Homo sapiens: one gene and its partners. The protein of the gene in region 1 purifies or fractionates together with the protein of each later gene. This does not show direct contact. Each region holds a gene or a part of one and is shown in the gene's direction. Other genes may lie near its edges.

Evidence for each region.
Region 2: the proteins of WASF3 (region 1) and CYFIP2 purify together in Homo sapiens (affinity purification with mass spectrometry; 3 studies listed by BioGRID and IntAct, with this or other methods). This does not show direct contact.
Region 3: the proteins of WASF3 (region 1) and CYFIP1 purify together in Homo sapiens (affinity purification with mass spectrometry; 2 studies listed by BioGRID and IntAct, with this or other methods). This does not show direct contact.
Region 4: the proteins of WASF3 (region 1) and NCKAP1 purify together in Homo sapiens (affinity purification with mass spectrometry; 3 studies listed by BioGRID and IntAct, with this or other methods). This does not show direct contact.

Annotation. Positions count from the first base shown.
Region 1 is NC_000013.11:26,679,670-26,686,697, forward strand, and holds part of WASF3 (actin-binding protein WASF3), read left to right. Parts: exon of another isoform or gene 1-365; coding exon of another isoform or gene 366-532; exon of another isoform or gene 533-1,384; coding exon 1,385-1,651; exon of another isoform or gene 1,652-2,746; intron 2,747-2,937; coding exon 2,938-3,305; intron 3,306-3,846; exon of another isoform or gene 3,847-3,914; intron 3,915-6,018; coding exon 6,019-6,176; 3' UTR 6,177-7,028. UniProt on the Homo sapiens protein: Downstream effector molecules involved in the transmission of signals from tyrosine kinase receptors and small GTPases to the actin cytoskeleton. Plays a role in the regulation of cell morphology and cytoskeletal organization.
Region 2 is NC_000005.10:157,261,908-157,269,138, forward strand, and holds the start of CYFIP2 (cytoplasmic FMR1-interacting protein 2), read left to right. Parts: upstream 1-4,215; 5' UTR 4,216-4,288; exon of another isoform or gene 4,289-4,677; intron 4,678-4,873; exon of another isoform or gene 4,874-5,039; intron 5,040-7,231. UniProt on the Homo sapiens protein: Involved in T-cell adhesion and p53/TP53-dependent induction of apoptosis. Does not bind RNA. As component of the WAVE1 complex, required for BDNF-NTRK2 endocytic trafficking and signaling from early endosomes.
Region 3 is NC_000015.10:22,866,552-22,872,396, reverse strand, and holds the end of CYFIP1 (cytoplasmic FMR1-interacting protein 1), read left to right. Parts: intron 1-2,204; coding exon 2,205-2,369; 3' UTR 2,370-5,345; downstream 5,346-5,845. Other genes in the region: magnesium transporter NIPA2, read right to left, coding at 5,550-5,845. UniProt on the Homo sapiens protein: Component of the CYFIP1-EIF4E-FMR1 complex which binds to the mRNA cap and mediates translational repression. In the CYFIP1-EIF4E-FMR1 complex this subunit is an adapter between EIF4E and FMR1.
Region 4 is NC_000002.12:182,951,431-182,958,458, reverse strand, and holds part of NCKAP1 (nck-associated protein 1), read left to right. Parts: intron 1-862; coding exon 863-1,002; intron 1,003-1,865; coding exon 1,866-1,997; intron 1,998-5,127; coding exon 5,128-5,346; intron 5,347-5,535; coding exon 5,536-5,666; intron 5,667-5,956; coding exon 5,957-6,054; intron 6,055-7,028. UniProt on the Homo sapiens protein: Part of the WAVE complex that regulates lamellipodia formation. The WAVE complex regulates actin filament reorganization via its interaction with the Arp2/3 complex. Actin remodeling activity is regulated by RAC1.

The DNA of each region.
Region 1 (7,028 bases):
ATAGGAATTTACATTTTTAAAATACTCTAAATCTAAATACAGGTCAGGTCCTTCCCCCATTAAATATATTTTTAAGTCATTTGCTAGCAGCTCACCTAGTTCAAAAGACATAATCAGAAGTGCACCATAATCCAGAATTCATACTGCAATTAGGGAAGAAAATAATGAGTAGTTATTAGTTGTTACACTTCAATTAAGGAAGGAAAAAGGAAAAGAAGCTGTCTCTTCTCATTTGGAAGGCTTTTCTGTGCCACATGGTGCCCCAGTTAAGAAAAGCTACCAACTGGAATCCCAAAGATGGAAATGCAGCGTGCATCTTCCCTGCTCCCTCAGCACCCCCAATGTGTGTTTGGTATTTCCTTCAGAGAGAGAAACACAAGCTGAACCCTAACAGAAACCAGCAAGTAAATGTGAGAAAAGTCAGAACAAGAAAAGAAGAGTGGGAGAGAAGGAAAATGGGCATTGAGTTTATGAGTGACGCAAAGAAACTGGAGCAGGCAGGGAGCGCCAAAGAGGACAGAGTGCCCAGCGGGTTTGTTGTTTTGCTTTCTTTGGGTTCCCAGACTCAGACTGCCCCTGCTTCTGCCGCCATGAGAGGATGTACAGCCCCTCCTGGCCACATGTCCTGTAACCTGAGCCAGGAGCGTGTGACTGTCTTACTAACGCCCACGGCACTGCCGGGCTGCCACACTTGGGTCCTTCCTCTCCTCCTGAGGGCTTAGCAGGAATCCCGTCCCTGCACCCCATGTCTCAGCTCTGCTCCACTAATCCAAGATCCCTTTCCTTTCGGAGTTTCACACCCAGTTTGTGTGCAAAGAAAACTATGGAAAGAAGGCCTTTCCATAGTGCACCGCATTGCTTTCTGCCCTTTTTGTTAAGTACATTTCTTCTGTTTAAGAAAAATATGATTCACTCTACTGCATTCTCGATTTCTTTTCCTGTTCTTACTGTTAATATTTATCCAGTTAACCTGCCATTTTATATTTTCTAATTATATGCTGTCAGTTTCATTGCCACTGAAATCTTCTGTCTTATATCCTGTTTCTAAATGGAATGGTTTCTTTCATAGCCTTCTTAGAGAAAACGTATGCTGAAATACTGTGAAAAGGAGGCTCTGCTGTTTCCTGCTTGCCGGTCTGTCTGACTTATTCACTTCAAAGCTGTGAATCTGAATCCATGTAACACTGGGGCTTGCTGCCGACTTATAATAATTATGTTGTTGCTTGGAATCTCTCACGGGGCTATACCTAGTTGATAGTAAAGCAAATTAATGTCTGATTTTTGTGTATTAGCAATGTTATTATTCAAATACATCCATGTGCCTGTTAGCCGACAATTTTTAAATTAATTTAAATTTCTCCCACCTCTTGTTTTCAAATGCCAGGTCACATGCATCGGACGTTACGGATTACTCTTACCCGGCTACTCCCAACCATTCTCTGCACCCCCAGCCTGTGACCCCTTCCTATGCAGCTGGTGACGTGCCACCACACGGGCCTGCAAGCCAGGCTGCGGAGCATGAGTACCGGCCCCCATCTGCCTCGGCGAGGCACATGGCCCTCAACAGACCTCAGCAGCCGCCCCCCCCGCCTCCCCCTCAGGCCCCAGAGGGGTCCCAGGCCTCTGCACCGATGGCTCCAGCAGACTACGGGTAACTCAGCATGCCTTGTACCCTAATCCCTCCTGGCCTTGCATTTGAATCTTGCTCTATGTGGTAGGAGAATTTTAACTCCGGTATTTTAGAGGCCAAGATAGAGTCAAGGATGACTGGATGTAGATACTAGCAACTCTAACATTCTGTGTGAAATAAAGCAGGTGCAGCATAAGCTCAGACTTACAGTTGAGTCTCAGGCCACACTGTGCATGCATGTGTGTTCCCTCACACACACTCTGGGTGTTTGAATGGCTCTTTAAGCCAAGGCATTGATAAAGGGTATTAAGTGCTGATTTTGTGAACCTGTCCCAAACCCTCAAGTTTCTGGACACATCCTGAGTGGACCACAGAAAATTGTTATCACAGACGAGAAGACCACACCATGCAGCTCCTGTGCCTCATTTCTCAGACTTGACCAAAATCTGCTTTCGTGACCTCTGACCACCCAGACATCATTCTGCCCCAGGCCCTCCTGTTCCCTGAGAAGTAGAATTCAGAGACTTCATGTTCAGGCGTTTATCAATTTAGGCACCCACCTCTCTTTTTTTTGGCTTTACTCTAGTCTTTAAAGACTTCATTCCTCAGAGTTGGTGCCCAGGAAAATTACCGTGTGTTGGTGTCCACTGCTAACACGTGTCTGCACACCCCTGTCTGAATGACAATCCTGCTCTCAGAAGTGCTCTCCCTGGCCATGCATGCCAAGTCAGGATCCCCAGAGTGGCTTGAGGCTGTGTCAGGCCAAGAGAGGGCCCATGGTCCAGTTAGTTTGGAAGACCCTCGGCTGAATAGAATTCAGCAGATTTCTTGGCTGTGTGACTTTTCGAAGCTTTTGATACACACCTGGGCACTGCAGGCATGGGGCATTTCCACGGAGGTGGGTTAGAGAATGTAGAAAGCTCCCAATCTGGTTGACCTTAGGACCCTTAAAAGACAAGTTTGTGAGCTACCGCCTTGAGATCCCAGTGTGAAGCCTTCACTGGCGCTGCCGTCCTGGCCTCTGCAGTCAGCTGCTTTATTCTGCCTTTCTTCAGGAAGTGCTGCACTTTTTGAGTGGTCCTCCTTTTGGCACATTTCAGTAGCAGATCTTGACTTCTGTCATAATGAATAATGTCAAACTGTGAAAATAACTGACCCAAGGTGTGCATGTTTGCATCCTGCCATGATTGAAGTTCAGGTGACAATACGTGTTGTGTCTGGGGATGGCTCCGTTAGGTGTCTAAGAGCTCCCAGGACGTGACCCTCTCTTGTTCCCTTGGTGACTATGTGCCTCATATCTCTCTCAGGATGCTCCCAGCGCAGATAATTGAGTATTACAACCCATCCGGACCACCTCCTCCGCCACCTCCTCCTGTGATTCCCTCAGCACAAACTGCCTTCGTCAGCCCTCTCCAGATGCCCATGCAGCCCCCGTTCCCTGCATCAGCCAGCTCCACGCACGCAGCTCCTCCTCACCCACCCTCCACCGGGCTCCTGGTCACAGCCCCGCCACCCCCGGGCCCACCACCTCCCCCGCCAGGCCCTCCTGGTCCCGGGTCTTCTCTTTCGTCCTCCCCAATGCATGGCCCCCCAGTAGCTGAGGCGAAGCGGCAAGAGCCTGCACAGCCACCAATCAGTGATGCTCGAAGCGACCTCCTCGCTGCTATTCGAATGGGTAAGTGGAGCCCCCAGACACACAGCCTGCCTTTCAGCAAGAGGTTTCTTCATGTCTCCAGCCAGCTACAGCCTCCTTGTCTTCAAATGACTACTCACTACGTTTTTTAAAATAGAGTTAAAGGGGTCTTACTTGATTTTTTTGTTTTGTTTTGAATAGTAGTTGTGTTTTTGTCCAGTGTAAGGTAATCAAATTGTGATAAAGATTGGGAAACAGCCGGGCGCGGTGGGCTCATGCCTGTAATCCCAGCACTTTGGGAGGCCAAGGCAGTTGGATTGCTTGAGCCCAGGAGTTTGAGAGCAGCCTGGGCAACATGGCAAAACTCTATCCCTACAAAAAATGCAAAAAAAAATTAGCTGAGCATGTTGGCCTGAGCCTGTAGTCCCAGCTACTCAGGAGGCTGAGGTGGGAGGATTGCTTGAGTGTGGGAGGTCAAGGCTGCAGTGAGCCGTGGTCACGCCCCTGCACTCCAGCCTAGGCGACAGAGCGAGACCCGTCTCAAAAAAAAAAAAAGAATTGAAATTAGGAAGTTTTTACTTACCTTGAAACCAGAAACCCAATAACTGAAGTGATCGATTAATTAATTGGATCTCTTCTCTGCATTCTGCTCTAAGGGGAAAAGTATAAATGAAAGAAAGTGAGCTCATATTAATGATTTCTTTAAAAAAAAAAAAGAGTTTGTGCTGGACTTGTCATATTTGCTTGATGTCCTAAGCCAGTGGTTTTTCAGAATCTATAATATTCAACAGCATAACCCTTTTGTCAGATGAAAGTCCCGCGTTGACCCCCTGACCACAAAACACATGGAAACAGAGCATCTCAGGTGGAATTGGGTGGGGAGTCTGCCCTCGCCTGTCTTGGGCTGCCCAGAGAGCCCCTGGGAACCTCCAGCCCACACCATGGATTCTTAACCAGGTCCCAACCCAGGTTGGTCGAGGGTCCCTGACATGTTATGGGAATATCCAAGAGCTTCTCGCCTGTGGGGAGCTGCACAGACTTGGTCACAGTTTAGTCATCTCATCTGGAAGTGACCAAGCAAGGAGCCTGGCTGCAGCCCGCCAGCTCAGCATCAGGGATGTCCTTCAGAGGAGCTGTGATGCTGCTGCCTCTGCGTTTTTCTTGTGTGCCCATGAACCAGGCCCACAGTGTGGCCCACGCACCCTTCTAAAGACCCCAGGGTCCTCTGTGTACCTGGACATCATTGACACACTTTTATTTTGTCAAGATAAAAAAGTCCTAGAGGTATATTAGCTCATGAATATCAAGTTCGGGGTCATTGTAGGACGGTGTTGGATTTGCCTTTTTTTTTTTTAACACCTTATAAGCCCTGTCTACCAAGAGTAGATACATAATCTGTATCTAATCTCGAGGAAACATCTGATACACCCAAATCGACAGACATTCTGCAAAATAGCTTCCTATATTCTTCAAAAACGAGAAGGTTGTAAAACACAAAGACTGTGAAGAACTATCCAGATTAAAGGACATTAACAAAATTGACAACCAATGTCACGGATAATTTCCACTGGATTCTGAACCAGGGGATAATCTTTTCCATTTGCAATTAGATTGGGTCTTTTTGCAAAATTTGAATAATATTTGTAGGATAGATAGTAGTAGTGTATCCAAACTAATTTTGTGATTTTGATATTTTGGGTGGGCGAGGCGGGGGCGGTAACACATGAACTATTTTAGGGGTAAAGGGACATTATATGCCATTCACTCTCAAATGGTCCAGAGAAAAGTGTCTGTGTCTGTCTGTGTAAAGATGATAGGGGAAGATTGGGAAATAAATGTGGTCAGATGTTAGCAGTTGGGGAATCCAAGTATATGGGAATGTTTTTCTGCTGGTCTCATAGCTGTTCTGTAAATCTGAAATTATTTCAAAACAGTTAAAAAATGAATGGATACCATCTTGGGCAACATTGCAAGACTCTATCTCTACAAAAAAGAAAATACAAAATTTAACCGTGCATGGTGGCGTGCGCCGGTGGTTCCAGCTACTCAGGAGGCTGAGGTGGGAGGATTGCTTGAGCCCAGGAGGTCGAGGCTGCAGTGAGCCATGATCGTAACACTGCACTCCAGCCTGGGTCACAGAGTGAGACCCAATCTCAAAAAAAAAAAAAAAAATGGATAAACATTAAATCATCAAATATCTTACTTTGTTACTAAGCTAGAAAGTAGATGATTGTATTTTATGTTTGTTTCCACAGTAATTGTTGAAATAAAGGTTTCTCAGTTACTTCTTGGGTTAGCTGAGAGTGAGTAGCATAGAACACTGTTTCCAAGGCTCTGGATGCTGTTGCTGCCTAGTAGATGTCCTGTGGTGATAGAAATGCTCCAGCCTGCAGCGTCCCAGAGAGTAGCCACTAGCCACATGTCAGTTCATGCTTTTAAGGCTATATGTGCCTAGTGGCTGCTGTCTGGGATGGTGCAGCTCCACAGTTTTCTCTAATGGTGTTCAGGTACACTGAAATTAGGAATTTTTAATATTTTAACACATTACTTTGTTACAAAAAAACTTCTCACTTTGAATGCATGTTTTTTCTCATGAAACTTTTAATATTCCCTGAGCTTTTCTCCCCTCAAATTTCTAAAACTTTCTGTCCTTAGTGTCAGTAGAAAAAAAAGTCCAATAGACATATTTGTTCGTTTATCTTTAATTTGGAGCCAGCAAAAGGATGTGATTCTGAACCACGTGTTGTGTCTGCAGGAATTCAACTGAAAAAGGTGCAGGAGCAGCGGGAGCAGGAGGCCAAGCGGGAGCCAGTGGGGAATGACGTGGCCACGATCCTGTCCCGGCGCATTGCCGTGGAGTACAGCGACTCTGACGACGACTCAGAGTTCGACGAGAACGACTGGTCCGACTGAGCAAAGGCCGGCGGAGAGGCCGCGTGTGGGAGCGTGTTGAAGATTTTAAGTGGTCTCTACACCCAAATAGTGGTATTCTAATCCCGTAGCATAGCACCTTTTGTATAAACAATGTGATATTGCTTCTGCACATCCAAAAATTCTGGGTCTTTTCAGTATTTACTGTGTAATACTTAAGTGCCACTAAACATAGCAAATTGTGCTGCACATGAGGAAATAGGCTGTCACTATCACATTGTCCTGAAAACAGCATCTGCTTTCCTCTTGGCCATGAGAGTATTTAGTGCAGTTTGGGTTTACTCTTACTGATCAATATAACTCTGCAGACTTGCTGTGTGTTTGTGAAGCTGCCTGGTGTTAGGTCTCTGCAAGACTAATGACTATGTCAGAGTGATGTCTTCCAACCAGTAAGTGATATTGTTTCACCGCTTTGGTTTTTCCTTTTGTTTTTTTAAAGGATGTGTTTCTGAATAAGTTGGTTTTAGAGGGAAAGGTTCAACAAACAGGGAGAATCCAGTGTTTCTGCTTTCAGTTTCTTGGCTTGGTAGCCTCTGAGTGAATCTGATGCTCTGCTGAATAATTTCATTACCTCTGCACATGCCTGTCAAATATGAAATTGGAAGGGCCCTTTTCAGGCTGGGTTCCCTGTGGGCATTTGCTTAGTAAATGCCTGTTGATGGTTTTTGCAAGAGAATTCAGCAGCTCAACAGTAATGAAAGTGAAGAACAGAGTCCATTTTCCTTCCTGGGGCCATTGGGGATGACACTCAAGATACTTGCCAGTCTCTCCAGTGTGGGCACCAGCCGGCCAGAACAGATGCGAGCAGTCCATGACTCTGGGAGCTACACCGCT
Region 2 (7,231 bases), on another chromosome or scaffold:
AAAAAGAAAATCATAATAATAATCCCATTTTTGAGCATTTATTATGTACCAGACTCTGCTTAGTGTGTTACATTATCATTTCATATAACCTTCACAAGAATCTAAGGGATATACTTTTTTGTTTTGTTTTGTTTTGCTTTGTTTTGATACAGTGTTTTGCTCTGTTGCCCAGGCTGGAATGCAGCCGCACCATCTTTGCTCACTGCAACCTCCACCTCCTGGGCTCAAGCAATTCTCTTGCCTATAAAATGAGGCAATTTTGAGCAAGTGGTCAGGTTCTATCTACAGAATGGCCAATGTAAATTCTGTAACTGACCATCAAGTTTATCTTTTCCTGCCACCCACATAAATACTTAGAACCAAATGTGTTAGCAAGCTCATAGCAGGTAGAGCTGTGATTGATTTTTGTTTTGTTTACATTTTGGTCTTATGTACATTCGATTCTCCATCTCATCTCTCTACTCTTTTCCTTCTTTTTAAAAAATTTCTTGCTGATTTTTAATTTTTTAACATAATGTATTCCTGTAACTTACATTTAATATGTTTTTAGAATAAGGTAGCATATTAGTAAACAAATGGACTTAGCTTGGAAGAGGGAAAGTGAGGCTGTATGAGATTGTGGTAAAAAGCATGGGTTTGACTTCACTACCTTGGGCAAATTATTAAACCTTAATTGCCTCAATTATAAAAATGGGAAAAATGATTGTATTTTCCTTATAGAAAAATTACGAAAAATTAAATGAGGTAATGTACTTGGTAAATGTTAGCCATTATTATTATTATCATTATTTATGTTTTCCCTTCATGCCCATTCCAGATACTTCATTACTGGTGTCTATAAAGCAGGGTCTCCTGATAGTTTTAAAATACATATATATATATATATTTTTTTTTTTTTTGAGACAGAGTTTTGCTCTTGTTGCCCAGGCTGGAGTGCAACAGTGTGATCTCGGCTCACTACAACTTCCACCTCCCGGGTTCAAGCAATTCTGCCTCACCCTCCTGAGTAGCTGGGATTACAGGCGCTCGCCACCATGCCCAGCTAATTTTTTGTATTTTTAGTAGAAACTGGGTTTCACTATGTTGGCCAGGCTGGTCTCGAACTCCTGACCTCAGGCAATCCACCTGCCTCGGCCTCCCAAAGTGCTGGGATTATAACTTGAAGCTTTTCTAAAACACAAGGTAATGTTGCCACATGGACAACATGTGGGCCACAGCTTTGCAAGTACCAAAGCAATTCTTATTGATATCCTCTACCATTTCATTGCTGATGCACAGCTTGGGGTTGGATGTGAAGGAAATCTGAAGGCAGTAGACAGACAGCTATACATTTCAGTGGCAAAGTTTAAAAATGTCACCTATGGGTGTTCATTCCATCCATTTTTACTGAACTCCTGTTAAGTACCAGGCTCCAAGGATGCAATGGGAAAGCAAGACAGACATATCCCTGCTCCCTTAGATTTTATGGTCTCATGGTGGAATACAGGGAAGTGTGTTGACAATTATAATGCAGACTAATACGTGGGGTGATAGAGGGAGCCCAGGCAGCTAAGGACACATAGACAACTAATCTCAAGCTAACCCAGACATGTAGGAATCTTGGAGGAAGCGACATCTAGAGGAATACCAGGAAGATGAACAGAACTTCATCAGGTAAACTGGGAAAAAGTGTGGAATGTGGAGGGAGGGAATGGGGGGACAGAAACTGCCATTGAAGAAGCCTTGCATGTACGAATGTCGAGCACAACAGAGAACACAGCAAGTTTGAGGAACTAAAAGCTGTTCCTTTTAGCTGAAGCACAGCAAGCTTGTTCACATGGAGAGATAGCTGCCAGCTCTTAAAGACCCTCTCCGGCCACTGGAGAGTTTGGGCTTCATCGGGGGGCAGTGGGGAGCTAGGGAAGTGCCTTAAGCCTGGGAGGGACGTGCCCTTTAACTCATGTAATTTTCCACATTCAGAGGGAAGTTGGAGAGCATCCAACTTACTTCACTTAACAGGTGAGGAAACAGGGGTGAGGCTCCTTGCCTAAGATCATTCTTCTGTTAGTTGCAAAACTAGAACCAAAAGGCAAGCCTCTGGATTTCCAACACAGTGGCTTCAAAAGACCATACTGCTCTCCTTTATACACAAATAGAACTCAGAGGTCGGAGTTATTTTTGCCTAAGATCTAACCAAATATATATGTAATAGTCTTTTCTGTTTTTAGGCAACTTGTTCCTGAAGGTGAAAAGACAGGGAAGGAACAACAGGGAGAAATACGTCTTCCAAAAAACTATACCATCTGCAATAATATGCCCCTTAGAATGAAAATCTGATTTATTGGGATTCTCATTGTTAAGTATTTGTAATCACTGAACTTGAAATCCCAAGGATCACGGTGGAAAATGAAACATTTTTTAAAAAGGAAACCTCAGTTCTGTTTTTAAACCCATCCTCCACAAACACCCCCACAGCTTTTCACACTGAACCAGGGAAGAAATGTATGTGTGTGTATATATATATATATATAAGTCATTTTTTTCCGAAATAGCAATTTGAATTGGAATTAGCGATTTAAGATCAAACCACAAGGAATTATGGATTCTGAGCACGTGGGAAATAAGGTGAGATCAGTAAAGGAAAGCAAAGGCTTCCACAAGTCCTTTGCTGGAGCTTGAATAACGGGGCTCCTCCACAAATTGCCCTTATTAGGAACAGCTGAGTGATTAAGTATAAATTTGTGGGCCTTAGGAAACCACTCCTTATATCTACATACACTCCACAATGTCTCAAATGTTTTCAAATTATTTACCCTGTAAGGTATAAAGGGCAACTGTTATTCCCTGTGTTGCAGATACGGTGACCTCTGTGGAGCAGAGTGGTGAAGTGACCTGCTCAGGTGTCTCAAGGTTAGAATTTGGTGCAGCCTGACTTCAGCCTGGTCTGAAGGCCTACCAGGCTGGATTTCAATGAGAATTGTTTCTTTCTCTTTTTCTTTTCTCTCTTTCTTTCTCTTCTTTCTTTCCTTCTCTTCTTTCTCTCTCTTTCTTTTTCTTTCTTCCTTTCTCTCTCTCTCTCTCCCCCCGTCTCTCTCTTTCATTCTTTTTTTTTTTTTTTTGAGACAGAGTCTCACTCTGTCACCCAGTCTGGAGTGCGGCGGCAGGATCATAGCTCACTGTAGCCTCAATCTCCCAGGCTCAAGCAATCCTCCCACCTCAGCCTCCTGAGTAGCTGGGACAAAAGGTGGATGCCACCACACCCATCTATTTTTTTTTTTTTTTAATTTTTAGTAGAGATGAAGTTTCGTTGAGTTGCCCAGGATGGTCTCCAATTCCTGAGCTCAAGCAATCCTCTCTCCTCGGCCTCCCAAAGTTTTGGTATTACAGGTGTGAGCCACCGCTGGGCAGATAATTGCTTCTTTAAAGAGCCCGACACGGCAGATAAGCCTTGAAGAGAAAGGTACCTGTCCTCTCAGTGCTTCCTGCCACCTATTTGTCCGTTAGGCAATTCTTCCAGAATGAAGTTGAGGCAGGCCCCTGTAAAAGAGGTGGCAGCTTCAGGGACTCTTCTCCAGGGAACTGGAAGGGAGCGGAAGAACTTATTCTTAAGCGAAGGAGCCCTATCAGCGACCAAGCTCAATTGGTGGAAGGCCCCTTCCCCTAGCCCCAGTTGCATCTTCTGTCACTTCACCCTGCTCCTTCTCCTCAGAGCACTTTGGGCTGTAACTGGACGTTTGCTAGGTTAATTTACACCTGTTTCTCCTGGCAGGTGATAAAACTCCAAGGGGGCAGGACCCTGTCTTTTGTACACCAGTGCACACCCAAGTCCTGGCACGGTACTTGGAACAGGATAGGTAATCAATAAAGACTGGGTTGATAAAAGAGCACTTGGAAATCATGTGGGGCCAATAAGATCCGAACGCGGCCGAAGCTCTCGTCCTCGGGTTGCTGCAGGTGTGGTTCCCGGTGATGGAGGCCGTGGAAGAAGCCTTCCCTCCCTTTCCCGCCCCCAGGGCAGGAAGCCTGGGGGCTGAGCGGTCCTCCGAAACCGAGAGGCAGGTCCTGGGTGCGCCGGCGGTACAGCGGAGAGCGTGGAGAGACCCTCGCCGCAGCCATTTCCTGCCCTTTGTGTGACAGCCGCTGCGGCGAAGGGGCGGGCGCTGGGTGGGGGCGGAGCCGCGGCGGGCGGAGCAGCGGGGCCGGGGCGGGGCCGAGCGCGGCGCAGCGGAGCGGGGCAGAGCATCCTGCGCCCCGGCGCGGGGCCCTGCGGTAGCCTCAGGCCCCTCCCCTGGACCCGCCGCAGAGCCAGGTAAGCGGCCCTCGCAGGCCTCGGGCCGGGCACGGGGACTAGGATGCCGCCGGGGACGGGGATGAGGCCGTGAGGATGCGCGAAGGGCCGCCCCCTCTCCCGGCCCGCGGGGGGCGCTCGGCGCTGTGCCCGGGCTAGCCCGAGGCCCGGCCTCAGGCCCCACGCGGCCCCTTTCCCCCTCGGACCCACCGTGCGTCCCGCGGCACGGACCCTCTGCCCGGGAGGCGCGGGCACATCGCGGAGCTCCGGCGCGGCGGCGGGGGAGCCGCAGCAGCAGGTGCGCGGCCTGGGCCGGAGCCGCCAGCCCGGGAGGAGGCGGTGCTAATCTCAGGGACCGGAGACACCTGCAGCGGCCGCGAGCCCGGCAGCGGCGACATCCTCGAGTCCAGGTACTGCAGAGCGCTGGCCCCTGCCTCTGCCGCCGTGACCACCGTCACCTCCCCCAGGGCCAGCGAGAGCCGCCTGGGCCCGCCTGGCAGCCGCCTCGGGCACACAGAACGTGTGATGGGTGGGGCGAGGGGCGCAGCGTCGATGTTTGGGGGCGGAGGGCTTTGATGAGAGAGGAGCAGGTCTGACCCGCTTGGAAGCTTTCTGGCCTACACTAGCATCGCTCACCAAGCTGGCTGCGGGCACGGTGGAAGTGGGGGAAGGGGATGAGTGGGCTGACTCCTGGGGGAAAAGGTGGTTTTTTTCTTGAGCTCTGAAGAACCAGGAAGATGCTTGCCTGTCTGTTGTGGCGTCTACTTTTCAGGTCAGCCCTACCCCTCACCCCAAAGAACAGCCCACCTATGTGCAAAAGAAGAGGAGGAGGTGCTCTCTGCTTGGGGATGGGGGCAGGTAGCATGTTCCACATAAGTATGGCCCTCTATATCCAGAACCCGGCTGGAAAGGACACTGACAGCCCAGGTGCCTCCCCAGCACAGGGAATCTGATTTTGACCTTTGCTTGCCTACTTTCCCCAGCACAGTGGAAACACTCACCAGGGCTGATGAGCCATCAGCTGTCCTTCCAGCTAGGCCAAGAATGGGACAAGGATCTTTTTCTGCTAGTTCCTGGGTGCCTGTGCCCTCAGCATGGGCAGGGAGACGGAGGCAGGCCTGCTGGCAGGAGGGGCAAATCAGGAGACTGTCGGTTCCTGTGTTCCCATTTCCTGCCTCCTGTCTGTGTCCCAGTTAGGGCAGTGGGTCTCACCTTACTCTTGGATACAGGCTGTGCCAGCAACCTGGGTCCCTGAGATCTTAGAGGGCAAAAATCAGGTCCATATCTTTGGGCAGGCCTGTGAAGGCCTTGATGGTTGCTTTCTCCACCATTAGACCCTCTCTCTGTGGCCCTCCTGGTGGCCTCCCACCTCCACTTCCATACAGTGCCCTGCCCTTCCCCCAGTCTCCAGTGTCAGAAATGGTTTTCAAGAAAGGAGCCAATGATTGTGTTTATCTTGAAGAGCTAAATACAAAAGAAGTTCCCATTTGATGCAGAGCAGGTGCTTTACAAGTCATTTGACCGGAAAAGAAACAGAGGATGGAGGCATTTTAATGGGAAACAAAGCTTTAATGGGAAACACTGTAGAAATATTTGCTATCACTAATGGTAGAATTTCAAACAGTGGGCTGGAAGTGGAGGTGGGGAGCTGGGTAGTTCTTTTGGGAACGGGTCCCTGAAATGACAATATCTAGCAGCTGTCAGCTCTGTATTTGGCAAGGGCAGCTTTGGCCCTGCAGGCAGGAATGCTGTAAGAGTGTGTATGCATGCATGTGCATGCGTGCATGTTTGTTTGACTGGTCAGGTGTTACTGTCACCAGAAGGCATTTTTTGAGCACCCAGTGTCCACTTTCGGGATGAGAAACTTGTGTACACAGGGTTCCTCGTTGGCATTGGCTGCCCTTTGCCAAGGCAATTATTAGACCTCAAGAAGATAGTGTTGTTGCTTACAAAGTCAGTGCCTCTAGCTAGTTGTGCGCACTGAGCCTCTGGCTGGGGGCATTAGCTCTCTGCTCACTAAGCTTCTTTATTATATTTCCTGGCCAGTTCTGACCGGTTCTGTAGGCACCCAAGGCTGCCTTGTTCAGTCCCTGCTGGAAAATGAAAAAGGAAAAACTTGCTTTAGGCATTAGGCCAAGAGTCGGATGTACAACCCAGTGGGGTTGGAGAGTTTTACTCAAATCAGATGCTGGCCCAGAGAAGGAAGTAGACATGAATTCAAAAACCGGTAAAAGGCCCTGGTAGAACACTACATGACCCCTCTGATAAATCATGCCCTCTCTGATGTTCAGTGGCCTCTGCTGCTGTCATCAACCAGAAAGCTGAATGAGATGATGAATCGGCTACAAGCTAATTAACGGGAAAAGCGCTCCTGGAAAACAGTACGGGTCCCAGTCCCTACGTTTAAAGATTGGACTACACTCTCAACGCAGCTTCTTTGGACCACTGTTGGCCCCAGGGGTCCACCAAAAGCGTCACAAAATGGCCTTTTGTAGCCTCCATGTGGCCACCGTAACAATGAGTCTATTTCTTTACTGGCAAGTATTAATTATTCACTTGTAATTGACAAAGCCAGACATCAGTCACCTCACTGGAGTCTTTATGAAAGGCTTTTGGTCCTGTCATTCTGAGGAGCAAAGCCATGCCTAGGGTCCAGGGGATGGCCCCTGCATCAGTAGTGAGATGGTGGGAGAAGGGGGGCAGGCTGCTGCCTTCTTGGCAGTGAATGGAGGCAGGGGAGGAACTAGAATATCTTTGGATGCTCTTACTACCCAAGGGGTGCATGAAAGTGCCGAGCAGAATGCTTAGCACATAGTAAGTACTAGCATATTTATGTATTTATTGTTATAATGTATTAATTACATAATCATTAAGAATTTGGCTTATGTATGTAATCAACCCTTGGCTATTACCAGCCCCTCTCCCTCCAGAGCTTTCCTGAATTTTGCTTTTTTGAGGGAAGTT
Region 3 (5,845 bases), on another chromosome or scaffold:
CATTCAGGACTTCAGTTAAACATATGTTAGACCTTCTCATTCTATTCTCCACATCTCTTTGTTGTATCAGTTTTCTTTTTTCTTTCTTTTTTTTTTTTTTTTTGAGACAGTTTCGCTCTTGTTGCTCAGGCTGGGGTGCAATGCCACGATCTTGGCTCACTGCAATCTCTGCTGCCCAGGTTCAAGTGATTCTCCTGCCTCAGCCTCCCGAGTAGCTGGGATTATAGGCACCTGCCACCACGCCCGGCTGATTTTTGTATTTTGTAATTTTGTATTTTTAGTAGAGACTAGGTTTCACCATGTTGGCCAGGCTGATCTTGAACTCCTGACATAAGGTGATCCGCCCACCTCCCAAAGTGCTAGGATTACAGGCGCGCCCAGCCCTGTTGTATTAGTTTTCTATTGCTTCCATGACAACAAATCACCACAGGCTTGGCAGTTTAAATACCACTGATTATCTCACAATTCTCTAAGTCAGATGCCTGAGTTCAGCCAGGCCCAGCTGGGTCCTCTGCTCAGTCTCATGGGGCCAGTGTCTGAGGTGCTGGGTTCACCCTGGAGGCCTTCAAGCTTATGCACAGTTGGCTCAATTATTCCTTGCAGCTGTAGGACTGGGTCCCCCTTCCTTCTCATGCTTTCCAAGTGGCCCCCTCCAGCAATGGTGGGTTGGGCAGTCTCAGCCTCTAGTCTTCTGCCATGTCTCTCCTGCCTCCGGCCAGAGAACATTCCCTGACTGTGACTATATTGAGCCCACTGGACAACCCCAGATACTCTCCCTGTTCTACAGTCCAGTCTTAGCCACACCTGCCCAGGCCCCGTGGAGTGGAGGCAATGCAGTCACAGGCTCCAGGTCATGGGCCTCTCTCAGGGGCCCTTCTGCCTCCCACTCCTCCATTTCCGGGGCTCCCAGAGCTGTGTCCAGATACTGTATTCATGTGTCTTAGTTAACTTGTTTACTTCAGCTCTAATCTGCTGAGCTTTTACTCTGAAAATATTATTAGTTCACTTTTTAAAGTTCAATTAGGTTCTTCAAATCTTCTTGGTAACTGACAGTTTTATTGTCTTAACTGAACTTTTTCCATCTCTTATTTCTTTATCCAATTCATGTATTCTATATTCTGTGTGTTTTCCTTCTAGTATCTGAAGGCCTTGGAGGTATTTAAAACTTTGCTGTTTCCTTGTGTGTTGGGTTATTTGGGAGTCTTTATTTAACTGGAGTTAATTTAGATTGCTTTCCCCCAAGATGTGCATTTGTATCTGCCCATCTCTATGGGGTGCTACCAACTCAGGGCCGCTTTAGCCGAATTGGAGGTCCTGGCTTCACTGGGGAGTCTTCGGTGTGGTCCCGCTTGCTTACGCCCGGGCTGCTCCTCACCCCACCGCCGCTGTTGGCATCTGCCCCTGAGGAGGCCCTGGCTTCCCCCTTACCACCTGCATAGGTAGAACCAGCTTTTCAAAGCGTTTTGTTTGCGTGTATGTTCTTAATTCGTGTTCTTTATTCCTGTGGTAGCAGGAGGGTCTGTCAGAGTATCCCGTCACAGTATTTCCAAACTGGAAGTCTAAAACTTGTGTTAGTTGACTGGCCTTTCTCCACTGACCACATCATCTTCATCTGGAGATCCCCAGCTTTGAGCAGACAGTAGGTTCTTAATTGCCAATGTGGAAGGAATAGGCCTATCAATTGTGCGCATGAATGAATCTACAGCAGCATGAAGCCAACAGAGGGATTCTAAATTCAAAATATATTCATCCTTCCAACTGTTGCATTAAAGAGATGGTATGTGGCTGGGAGTGCTGGCTCATACCTGTAATCCCAACAGTTTGGGAGGCTGAGGCAGAGGAGGATTGCTTGAGCTCAGGAGTTCAAGACCATCCTGGACAGCATAATAAGACCTTGTCTTTACAAAATTAAATTTAAAAATTAGCTGCGTGTGGTGGTACACGCCTGTGGTCCCAGCTACTCAGGAGGCTGAGGTGGGAGGATGTCTTGAGGCTACAGTGAGCCGTGATCATGCCACTGCACTCCAGCCTGGGCGTCAGAGTGAGACCCTATCTTACAAAAAAAAACCCAAAAAGAACAGTATGTGTGTCAATTCCGTTTGCTATTATTTTTCTGAGAAAATATAAGAATCCTGACATTTTGAAACATGAAGAATAAATGTTGAAGTGTTAATAGTAAAACATCCTCACTTTGATGGTTGTAGCCTTTGAAGAAGATGGTGGAGAGAATTCGCAAGTTCCAGATTCTCAATGATGAGATCATCACCATCCTGGATAAGTACCTGAAGTCAGGCGACGGGGAGGGCACGCCAGTGGAGCATGTGCGCTGCTTCCAGCCGCCCATCCACCAGTCCCTCGCCAGCAGCTGAGGGCACGCGCTGCACTCCGTAACTCAACATGGCATGCCTTTCTCTCCGTAAACTATTTAGTGAGATTTTTAGGGACTATTTTTCAGTATCTCTGTACCTGTTAAAGGGGGTGCTTTTCGATCTAAAAACTTAATTTTATAAAATTGACTTATTTTTCTAGACTAAAATTGTATATGCTTTTGGTAATTAGGAACTCTTGAGAATATTGGCTGCTGATTGTTGCCATCACGTTCCTACAAAATTGTTTTTCTATGGGATGTTCTGGCAGCTGTGTCATAAAATGCTGCTGGGTTCATTCATTCATTCCATAAGAAACTTAATACCAGCAAATGCATTAAATCCCTTGCCAGTTACCATTAACTGTAACTATTTAGCTTTTGTTTAGGGATCTTTCTGATGGTCTTTTATGAGCAATCTTAGTTCTAAGTCATTGTTCCCATCCCTTTTTTGTGTGTTTCAGAAAATAGTGAACTTGATTCCCCTGCTTCCACTAAATCCAGTTGTGACAAAATCTAACGTGACATCAGATCGAAAGGTTATAGAAATAAAACTAATGAGATCTATTTGTGTTCATTTATTTACTCTAACCCTGTGCTGCCTGGCTTGGCAAGGAACTCTAACCTGAACTCACATACCAGGCCAGCTGGGATGGAGGTCACCTCTAAGGCTGAGGTGGGATGGGACCGTGACACCATCCCATATACCGCTCACCTCAGCACAGGTTTAGCTTTATATTTAGGGTTCCGCAGGCAAATGAGGTGTAAAACGGCCGTGTTGGCTGCTCCAATCTGGATATGAAGAGGCTACTCAGTGCCTCTCTGTTACCTGTGCCCATGACCTGGAGGAAGCCAGCAATGTGGGAGGAGATCAGTCAGGCCCAGTGGGTGCTGCACAAAGGGACCGGGAGCACCGAGTCCAGCCTTCAGCTGTCCCCGATCCACAGGGCTCACATGGCTGGAGCTGGTTCACATGATCTGTCAGAATGAAAAACAATCGGTCTAGACTACCAGTAGAGTCACGAACATGTTTGAGAAACTAAAGCCATATTTTAAAAAGTACTAAGGCAATGAGGTTCTGAAAATCCTAACTAACTGAATGGAAAAAGATGCTATGCCTGTTTATTGTAGATGAATACTACAGATAAACACAAGTCCAGCATGATTAACTGAACTCACTTTATATTGTAGCCTGGCAGTCATTTTACATTATTTGGAGTATTGCAACCTTCACCAATTTTAAAATTTTCTATGGATGCCAAGTTGCCATAAAAAGCAGGCCTCGCCTACTTTTCCGGAGGCCTTTGGAAACTGTCCAGAAGCATATGATGCACGGCACAGAAAAGTAGTAAGTGTACGAACCATCCTGTTACACTGCCAAACTCACTCAAGTGACATGAAGCCTAACAAACAATTATTCTTTCTTTATAAAAAGTTCCCTAAAAATGCTTTTGGTAATGTGAATTAATAACCCTGGGGCCAGCATTCTGCTGCAGATTTAGAGGTGGTAGCTGTGCTTATCTTAGAAACTACAGAATAGGATGAAAAATTATGGTAAAACTTAATCAATTACCAAGTTTTATAAGGCTTAATTATATACCAAATATGTAATACCTTAGGTATAAGACAATCTCAAGTGCTACAAAATGTTAAATAAGAATTTATTATTTATTAACCTATGCATGTTCAAATGAGTCTCTGTCCTCAAGGGGGAGAAAACTGGTTCTTTTATGTACAAAGCACAGATGTAGGTACAGTATATAAACAGATACGTAGTACATCTGTAGTATTAAAATGGCATGGGAGGAGGCAGTTAGAAAAAACATCTAAAACAGCTCCTTAGAAGGCCAATAATAAAGTTGGAAAAAAGGGAGTTTCCACGCAGCCAGTGGTGAGCTGCATGGGATACCAGCACCATTGGCAGGGGAGGCCCTCGGGGAGTGATGGCTTGGCGCTGGCGCACCACTGGGTAACCTCCAGGCAGGAGCCACAGGCTGGAACAGGCGAACACTTTCTTCCCATCACCTAGGTGGAAATTAATTCTGCCAATACTTTTTTTTAAAGGCCAGTCAATGGTTATGAGTGGATAGGTTCAAAGCTGAATGGAGTTCATTAGACCTTTTTTATTATTCTACCTTTTCTGCATATGTTTGCAGTTTTCCATCGACTTCTTCATAAACAAACATTTTCTAGAAACCAAAATATGTAGTGGCCCAAAGGAGCTCTTAAGCAAAGTACTTGGTACAAAGAGACCATATTCTATAAACATGTTAAGTTTGTTCTAAGCATTCAGACTTTTAGAATAAGAACTTCATTTCAACTTTTTATTATAACATGAGCTAAATTTAAGAAACAACCCTAGTCTTCTATTTCCCAGAGCTGTTCAAAGTCTAAATGACAATATAACTCATTATGAAAATATACTGAAAAGTACAAGAGCTGATGTAAAACGGTAATCAAGGTTCCAGGCATCATGGGATTAGGGTAACTGAAGAATAAACCCAGCCAGGCTGCAACAGCAGGCAGGATGTGCTGGCTTGATGAGGTGCTAAGGCCATCGAATGCTCAGAGGAAGCCGGATTCACGGTGATCATCTCAACCTGAGAAATCGTTCCTTGGGGTGATTTCTGCCCTTTTTTTTGTTTTGTAAGAAAGAGGTTCCTTCATTCAGTAACTTAGTTTTCCCTTAATAAATATTTCAAAAATAAAACCAATCATCATCAAACAAACAGGAGCCACTTTTGTAGGTAAGGTAAATCACAGGATAATGTATTGGGATAACTCTGTTTTTTTAAAATAAAAAAGCCTTACATGGTCAGGGATTGATGGAGTGGGGATGACAAATGCACATTTCAGACTTTCATCACCAATGAAAAAATAAAGCATTTTCATAGACTTAAAACTGTCATTAGTGCATTCGGCTTTTGGAGAAGGGATGAAAATGTAAAATACTTCTACAACAATAAAATGTTAATAGAAATCGTCATGTGCTGAGGTCATTTTAGTGAGCTACCATTGTTTGTTTAAATACAAGAAAAGTAATTTCTTGGTCCAAATTAGTGAAATCTTTAAAAAGATTGCCTTTAAAGAACATTATTTGAGGACAATGTTTTTTCAGACACATTCTGATGATATTCAAATTCACTTCATAACAATCACAGATTAACCTTTAATTACACCTTTCTTAAAAAGCTGTCAGATTTCCATTTCTTCGGGAGACATTTTCACCAGTGTGTTGTTCGATTCCACAGGTTAAGCTTTCTTCATTATTATTAAGAACTTCATACATATTAGAGAGATTGCCATTCATTGCTTTCTCGTCTTTTCGAAAAGACACAGGCAGACTTGCTAGACTAAAGCTGACGTCTTTAAAGGCATGCAACAAGAATATCCCCACAATGATTGTAAAGAAGCCACTCAAAGTACCAATGACATCGTCAACAGGCATATCTTGCCACTCCTTAAAAAGAATAGCTGAAC
Region 4 (7,028 bases), on another chromosome or scaffold:
AAATTACCTCTTCATGGCCAGGCATGGTGGCTCACGCTTGTAATCCCAGCACTTTGGGAGGCCGAGGCAGGTGGATCTCCTGAGGTCAGGAGTTCGAGACCAGCCTGGCCAACATGGCGAAACCCCATCTCTACTAAAAATATACAAATAAAATTAGCTGGGTGTGGTGGCAGTCGACTGTAGTCCCAGCAGCTCAGGAGGCTGAGGCAGGAGAACCCAGGAGGCAGAGGTTGCAGTGAGCTGAGATTGTGCCATTGCATTCCAGCCTGGGCAACAAGAGTGAAACTCCTTCTCAAAAGAAAAGAAAAGAAAAGAAAATGTCTCCTCATGCTGTGGCTATTTTAAAAAATTGTCGCTGTCTTTTTGCCTGCAGTTTACAATCCAACCTCTAGCTTGGCATTCAAGGCCCTTCCTAATAGTTGAAACCTCTGTACTTTACCTTACACGTTATGCTCCACCACATAGTAGTTCTAACTACAGCTCTGAACCATCATATCTTTACACAGTTTTTTTCCAAAGGCCATTTAATCCTTCCAGTGAAATATTCTTTTTCATTCCTTGCTTGCCTGGTATGTTTTTACTTGTCTTTTTAATAGTAATTTAAATAAGCGTCTATGAATTTACTCTATGACGTGTTTCTTCACACAAGATTTACCCAAGATCTACCCGTTTCTGTTTTCACCAAGCTATGTGCATTACCCAAGCTAGCTAAGTAAGCTCTGTATCTCACTTATATTTCTGTCTTTTAATATTGTTGTGATATTTGCAACACAGCCTGGATTCAGCTACTGTTTGCTTGAATAGTTAGTATGCTTTCAGAGTAATTGGTGTAATGTAAGATTTCATTCTTTTCTAAATTTAGTTGCTACCCAAGCATTGTGCCAAAACTATCAGTCAAGCAGTGAATAAGAAATCAAAAAAGCAGACTGGTAAGAAAGGGGAACCTGAAAGGGAGAAACCAGGTGTTGAGAGCATGAGGAAAAACAGGCTGGTTGTGACCAAGTAAGTATCCACTTATATTATACCTTTTTGCTCCAGGTAAAATATTTATTTCATTTTTTTCTATTGACATTAGTACTGAGGAAATGCTAATAATTGTATATTCTTCATTTTCCAGCCATTTTAAAAAATATTTCTGAGCTTAATTAACCTGTTAGTTGCTTATTTCATCTCAAAATACAGATTTTGGCCTTTAGAAGAAAATATATGTAATAGTTGATATTTGTCTTTTTATACTAAGTACTGAAGGCCAATTATATGTTTAAAAAATTTTGTGTGTTACATTATAAGCAATCTGTAATTTTTAATTTATTTAAAGTTAGATAGTGGAGACTTTATTTTGGCATGTTTTTGATATATTAGAACATACCCAATGTCATTATTATAAAACAGAAATAACAGACCAGGTAGCATTCAGGGATCTTTGCTTGCTTCATTGTTTGGAGGGGAGGTGTAGGTGGGTAATAATTCGGTAAATATTTTTTGTTTAAAGTATAGTTCCTACTTTCTTGCTAAATTGAGCAAGCCATTGCCCTTTTATAGACAACTTTCCTTCTCTCATAACAGAAAGTACTTCAGGAATTGGGCGTGATTATCTTTATGAGTGCAGAATAAGCTCTACCTTTGTATATTAAGTCAGTATATTCATTACTACCTAAAGGTAGAAACAAATGACGCCATCTTTAGAATATTGCTCTTATGTGTTAGTTATAACCTTAAAGATTTTGAACTTTCTCAGTTTAGGAGAATAAAAAGTCGAATTCTCTAAGCATTATCTCCAAATAAGGTTGATATATTTATAAAATTAATTTTGTATTGCCTGTGATGACATGTGAACATTTTAACTGTTTATTAATTTTTTTCAGCCTTGATAAATTGCACACTGCACTTTCTGAGTTATGCTTCTCTATAAATTATGTACCAAACATGGTGGTATGGGAACATACCTTTACCCCACGAGAATATTTGACTTCTCATCTGGAAATACGCTTTACCAAGTAAGAAAGAATATTGACTGTTTTTGTTTGTTGACTCAGTAATGAGTTTGTTATTTAATTATACAGTGTTTTATAAGGAAAAGCATTAGTAGAACTGGATTAGTGTTAAGAATAATGAACCGGGCCGGGCGTGGTGGCTCACGCCTATAATCCCAGCACTTTGGGAGGCCGAGGTGGGCAGATCACGAGGTCAGGAGATCGAGACCATCCTGGCTAACACAGTGAAACCCCGTCTCTACTAAAAATACAAAAAATTAGCTGGGCGTGGTGGTGGGCACCTGTAGTCCCAGCTACTCGGGAGGCTGAGGCAAGATAATGGCGTGAACCCGGGAGACACACTTGCAGTGAGCCAAGATCATGCCACTGCACTCCAGCCTGGGTGACAGAACAAGACTCTGTCTCAAGAATAATGAACTGGGAAATGCAAAGAATAGTGAACTGAAAATTACTGAAGATACCCAGATTCTTTTCTCATACCTATTAGTATTAACTAGTAACACCAGGCAAACCAGTTAATATCTCTGAGTCATAGCTTCCTTATATACAAAGTGAGAATATTGGAGCAAATCAATGTATTTCATCTTGCAGGTGGCAACCCAGTAGGTTCATGAAATCAGTTTATTAGGTTGTAGTCAAAGTTTAGAGAAAAGTGGGAGGGAAAGAAAGGACAAGAGGAAGAAAAAATAGGAAAAAAAACCCAGTACACTGTGTGCATTAAATATATATATTGCTTCGTGAAATGTTTCAGTTACATGTATGCATGTGTATTGACTTGCAGTGTTAAGATGCGTGTCATGCAGTAGGTCACAGTAAAATGTTTGAAGACCTGAGGACTAGATGAACCCTTACATGTTTTCTGAATTCACATGTTGCTGTTAAATAAGCCAATAGAATTCTAGATTCTTGAATTCTCAATTCTAATTAGAATTTCCTGTTATATATGAATATATATTTTATGTATGTATATGAAATAGTGCATTGATAAGTCAGAAACCTTTCAACTTTATATATATTGTTTTAACCTTTTTCTGAAGTTACATCCTTATTTATTAATATTTATTCATGAAAATTTTTATTTATTTGACAATTTTTTTCTTCAAAGCCTTGAAGCAATTTATAAAACAAAATTTTGCCAAAAGGTTTTCAAAGTTTCTGTAGTCATTAACAGGTGGTGTTTGTATTTGCACTATATGCTTAACAATGTGTTAAGTACTCTAGGTAATAATGAGATAAAGATAGAACTGTAGCTGGTGAGATGACTAAAAGAATTAGAGAACAGAATATGACAGTATATAAAGTGGCACTAAGTTGAGTGTTAAATTATCAGTTGACTTGAGAAGAGTCTGGTGATGAACTGTCTTTTGTTCTCCTTAGTAAGTCAGGCATCCTGACAGTAAAACCCAGAATGCCCTAGAACTTAGACCAAAGGGGCATTGTGCCTTGTGGTGTTTATTATTCTCAAGTGGGTTAGAGGTGGGACATTGGTGGGTGGAAGGGAGAGTTCAGTGTACAGCTCCCTTGTTTTCCTTGTAAACAGTCTGCTTTGTTAATCCACAGAGAAGCAGTTTTTTTTTTAACCAAACATCTACTTAGTGATTAGGATCAAGGCAAGGGGAACAGCTTGTTTACCTTGGAAAGATTTTTTATTTTATTTAATTTATTTATTTATTTATTTTGAGACGGAGTTTTGTTCTTTCGTCCAGGCTGGAGTGCAGTGGCACAATCTCAGCTCACTGCAACCTCCATCTCCCAAGTTCAAGCAATTCTCCTGCCTCAGCCTCCCGAGTAGCTGGGACTACAGGCGTGTGCCACTGTGCCTGGTTAATTTTTGTATTTTTAGTAGAGACGGGGTTTCGCCATATTGGCCAGCCAGATAGCTTGTGAATATTAGTGGGTTGGTTTTTGTCAATCAACTGAGCACAGTCTTAGGACTTAGGGATTATACACTAGGATAGCAGTTTTCATCTTGCGTTGGCTCTTCTTGGCCTGTTTCTAGTGATGGGATTTGTCGGTTGTCTTTTAAGGATTCATCCTTACAAATACAAGTCTAAGATCTTTACAGATCTAATGCTCAGGGAGTTTTAAAGAAAGTGAAATAGGGGTGGTCAGTGTAGGATAAGATCATTTAGGGAAGTATTTTCAAAATTTGTGTTTCCTTTTTAGTCGTATACAGTTTCTTGAGATATAAACAGAACTGTTTTATATGCTATGAGTGATTAAAGAAAATAAAGTTGTTTGTTGCCTTATTTTGTTTGACTGTCATACAGTTTGTTTAGAGGCAGCACTAAGTCAGGCAGATCTGCGGTCAAATCCTAGTCATAACCACTTCCCAACAAAACCTTATCAATTTATGTGAGTCCTGAGCTTTATTTTTTTCCTCTGGGAGATATAGTGATAAGTACATTGTAGGTGTTTATTAAATGTGAGGATTGTAGGTAATTTATATAAAGCCTCAAAAACTACTGGCACCTAACAGTGTCAAATAAATTCAAGCTGTAGACTAAATAGTTCACTGTCCTTGCTACAAACAACTTACCATGTTAAAGCAATTTGTAAAACCCTCTTTATACTTAAATCACTTTTGTTACTGGTATACTTAGAATGTTTTTAATCATTTTATTCACATTTCGTTGTAGTTTTTAAGTTTTCTTTTTTCTTTTTTTTTTAAGACAGTCTCACTCTGTTGCCCAGGCTGGAGTGCAGTGGTGCAATCTCAGCTCACTGCAACCTCTGCCTGCTGGGTTCAAGCGATTCTCCTGTCTCAACCTCCCAAGTAGCCAGGATTACAGGCATGTGCCAGGCCCAGCTAATTTTTGTATTTTTAGTGGAGACAAGGATTCACCATGTTGGCCAGGATGGTCTCGAACTCCTGACTTCAAGTCATCTGCCCGCCTCGTCCTCCCAAAATGCTGGGATTACAATAGGCGTGAACCACCATGCCCGGCCTTCATTCTTTTTTTACGCTGTTTCCTGGGAAGATAATGACAGTAATTTTACAGCTTTGTAATAAATTATTTTTAAAGTTAATTTTATTGCTTGTTTAATATTAGATAACAGTAGGTTGAGTGGTTTATTTTACATGAATGGAAAAGTCAGAGGCTTTTCTTATTCTTCTATCCCTTCTTCCCAGGTCAATTGTTGGGATGACTATGTATAATCAAGCCACACAGGAAATTGCAAAACCTTCAGAACTTCTAACAAGTGTAAGAGCATACATGACCGTACTCCAGTCAATAGAAAACTATGTGCAGATTGATATTACAAGAGTATTTAATAATGTGCTTCTTCAACAAACACAACATTTAGACAGTCATGGAGAGCCAACCATTACAAGTCTATACACAAATTGGTAAGGAATGCATTTAGAAATTTGTAGTAGCGGAAAATTTGTAATGAAGTACTTAGGAAAATTAATTTTTTTGTGAATAAGTACTTATTCATATTATCAGTCAACTTAAAATTATATGCAGGAATGTATATCATGATACATTCTGAATTAAGCAGTTTCTTCCGGTTATAAGTTTACGTTTCTCCTTAGGTATTTGGAAACTTTGTTACGACAAGTCAGCAATGGCCATATAGCATATTTTCCTGCAATGAAAGCGTTTGTGAACTTACCTACAGAAAATGAATTAACATTCAATGCAGAGGAATATTCTGACATATCAGGTGAATAGTACTATACCACAGTTTAGAGAATGAAGAACACTTAATTCTTTTGCTAGTGTCTTGATTCTTTAGACTTTTGATTCTGTTGTGACTATTTCATTCAATTATATGCGTAACTGCATATTGTATCTTAGAATTACTTTTGCATTTTGTATTCTCTCTTTCACTCTAGAGACTTTTATCAGGATTTTACATTAGTTTTTATAATGAGATGTTGTATTGTGTTAATGTTCATTTTCTTAAAGTATTTGCTCTGTCGGAAGTATAAAATTAAGTATGTTTTCTTTCAGAAATGAGGTCATTATCAGAACTACTAGGCCCATATGGTATGAAGTTTCTAAGTGAAAGCCTTATGTGGCATATTTCATCACAAGTTGCTGAACTTAAGGTAATATAGTCTTTATTAATTTTAGCTTTTAAACATTAATTCCTGAAAAACATTTCAGGGATATGAGCAACAAGCCTACAATGTTAATTATTTTAATCCAACATGAAAGTACTAATATGAAAATGAAAATTAAATAGCTAGCAAGGCCTTTTTATGGCATCTTAGTTTAGTTTTCTCTATTTTGTAGGTGAGAAAATGGAAAGCGAAAATAGGTGAATTGACTTGGTAAAGGGGACAGAACCTCAGAGTCTTTGGCTTGTGGTCAGGCCTTCATAGTATTGAATCATGATGTTTTCTTTGAAATACCAGCTTCAAAATTCCAGCCAAAGTTAACAATTTGTTCACACTTGCGGTTTGAATGTATTTGCTTTCCATAGATTATAATACAAAAATTACTGGGCTTATTGCTTTTTCTTAGGTAATCTTTTAAATTATCTTATGCCCTCTAAGTTGAATGAAAAATGCCTTCAGAATGCTTAATGTTTCAGTAAAGATGTAAAGGAACTGAAGCAACAACATTTTAAATACCTTTTTATTAGCCTTTTAGAAATATCCTACAGCTACGGTGATTTATATTAAACGAATCTGTATATATAATAACTATGTAGTTTTTGAAAGAATTTGAACTTGGGCCACCAAAACTTTTGAACTTACAAGCAGAATAGAGAAATCATGTTTTAAAATAAACATTTTCTTCGTAAAAGCTTTTTGGTGGTTACTTGAGTCTTGATATTTTAGTTTTTGTTTGTTTGTTTTTTTTTTTTTTTTGAGATGGAGTCTCACTGTGTTGCCCAGGCTGCAGTACAGTGGCACAATCTCAACTCACTGCAACTTCCACCTCCGAAGTAGCTGGGACTACAGGCACGCACCACCAAGCCTGGCTTATTTTTGTATTTTTAGTAGAGACGGTGTTTCACCGTGTTGGCCAGGCTGGTCTCGAACTCCTGACCTCAAGAGATCCACCCACCTCGGCC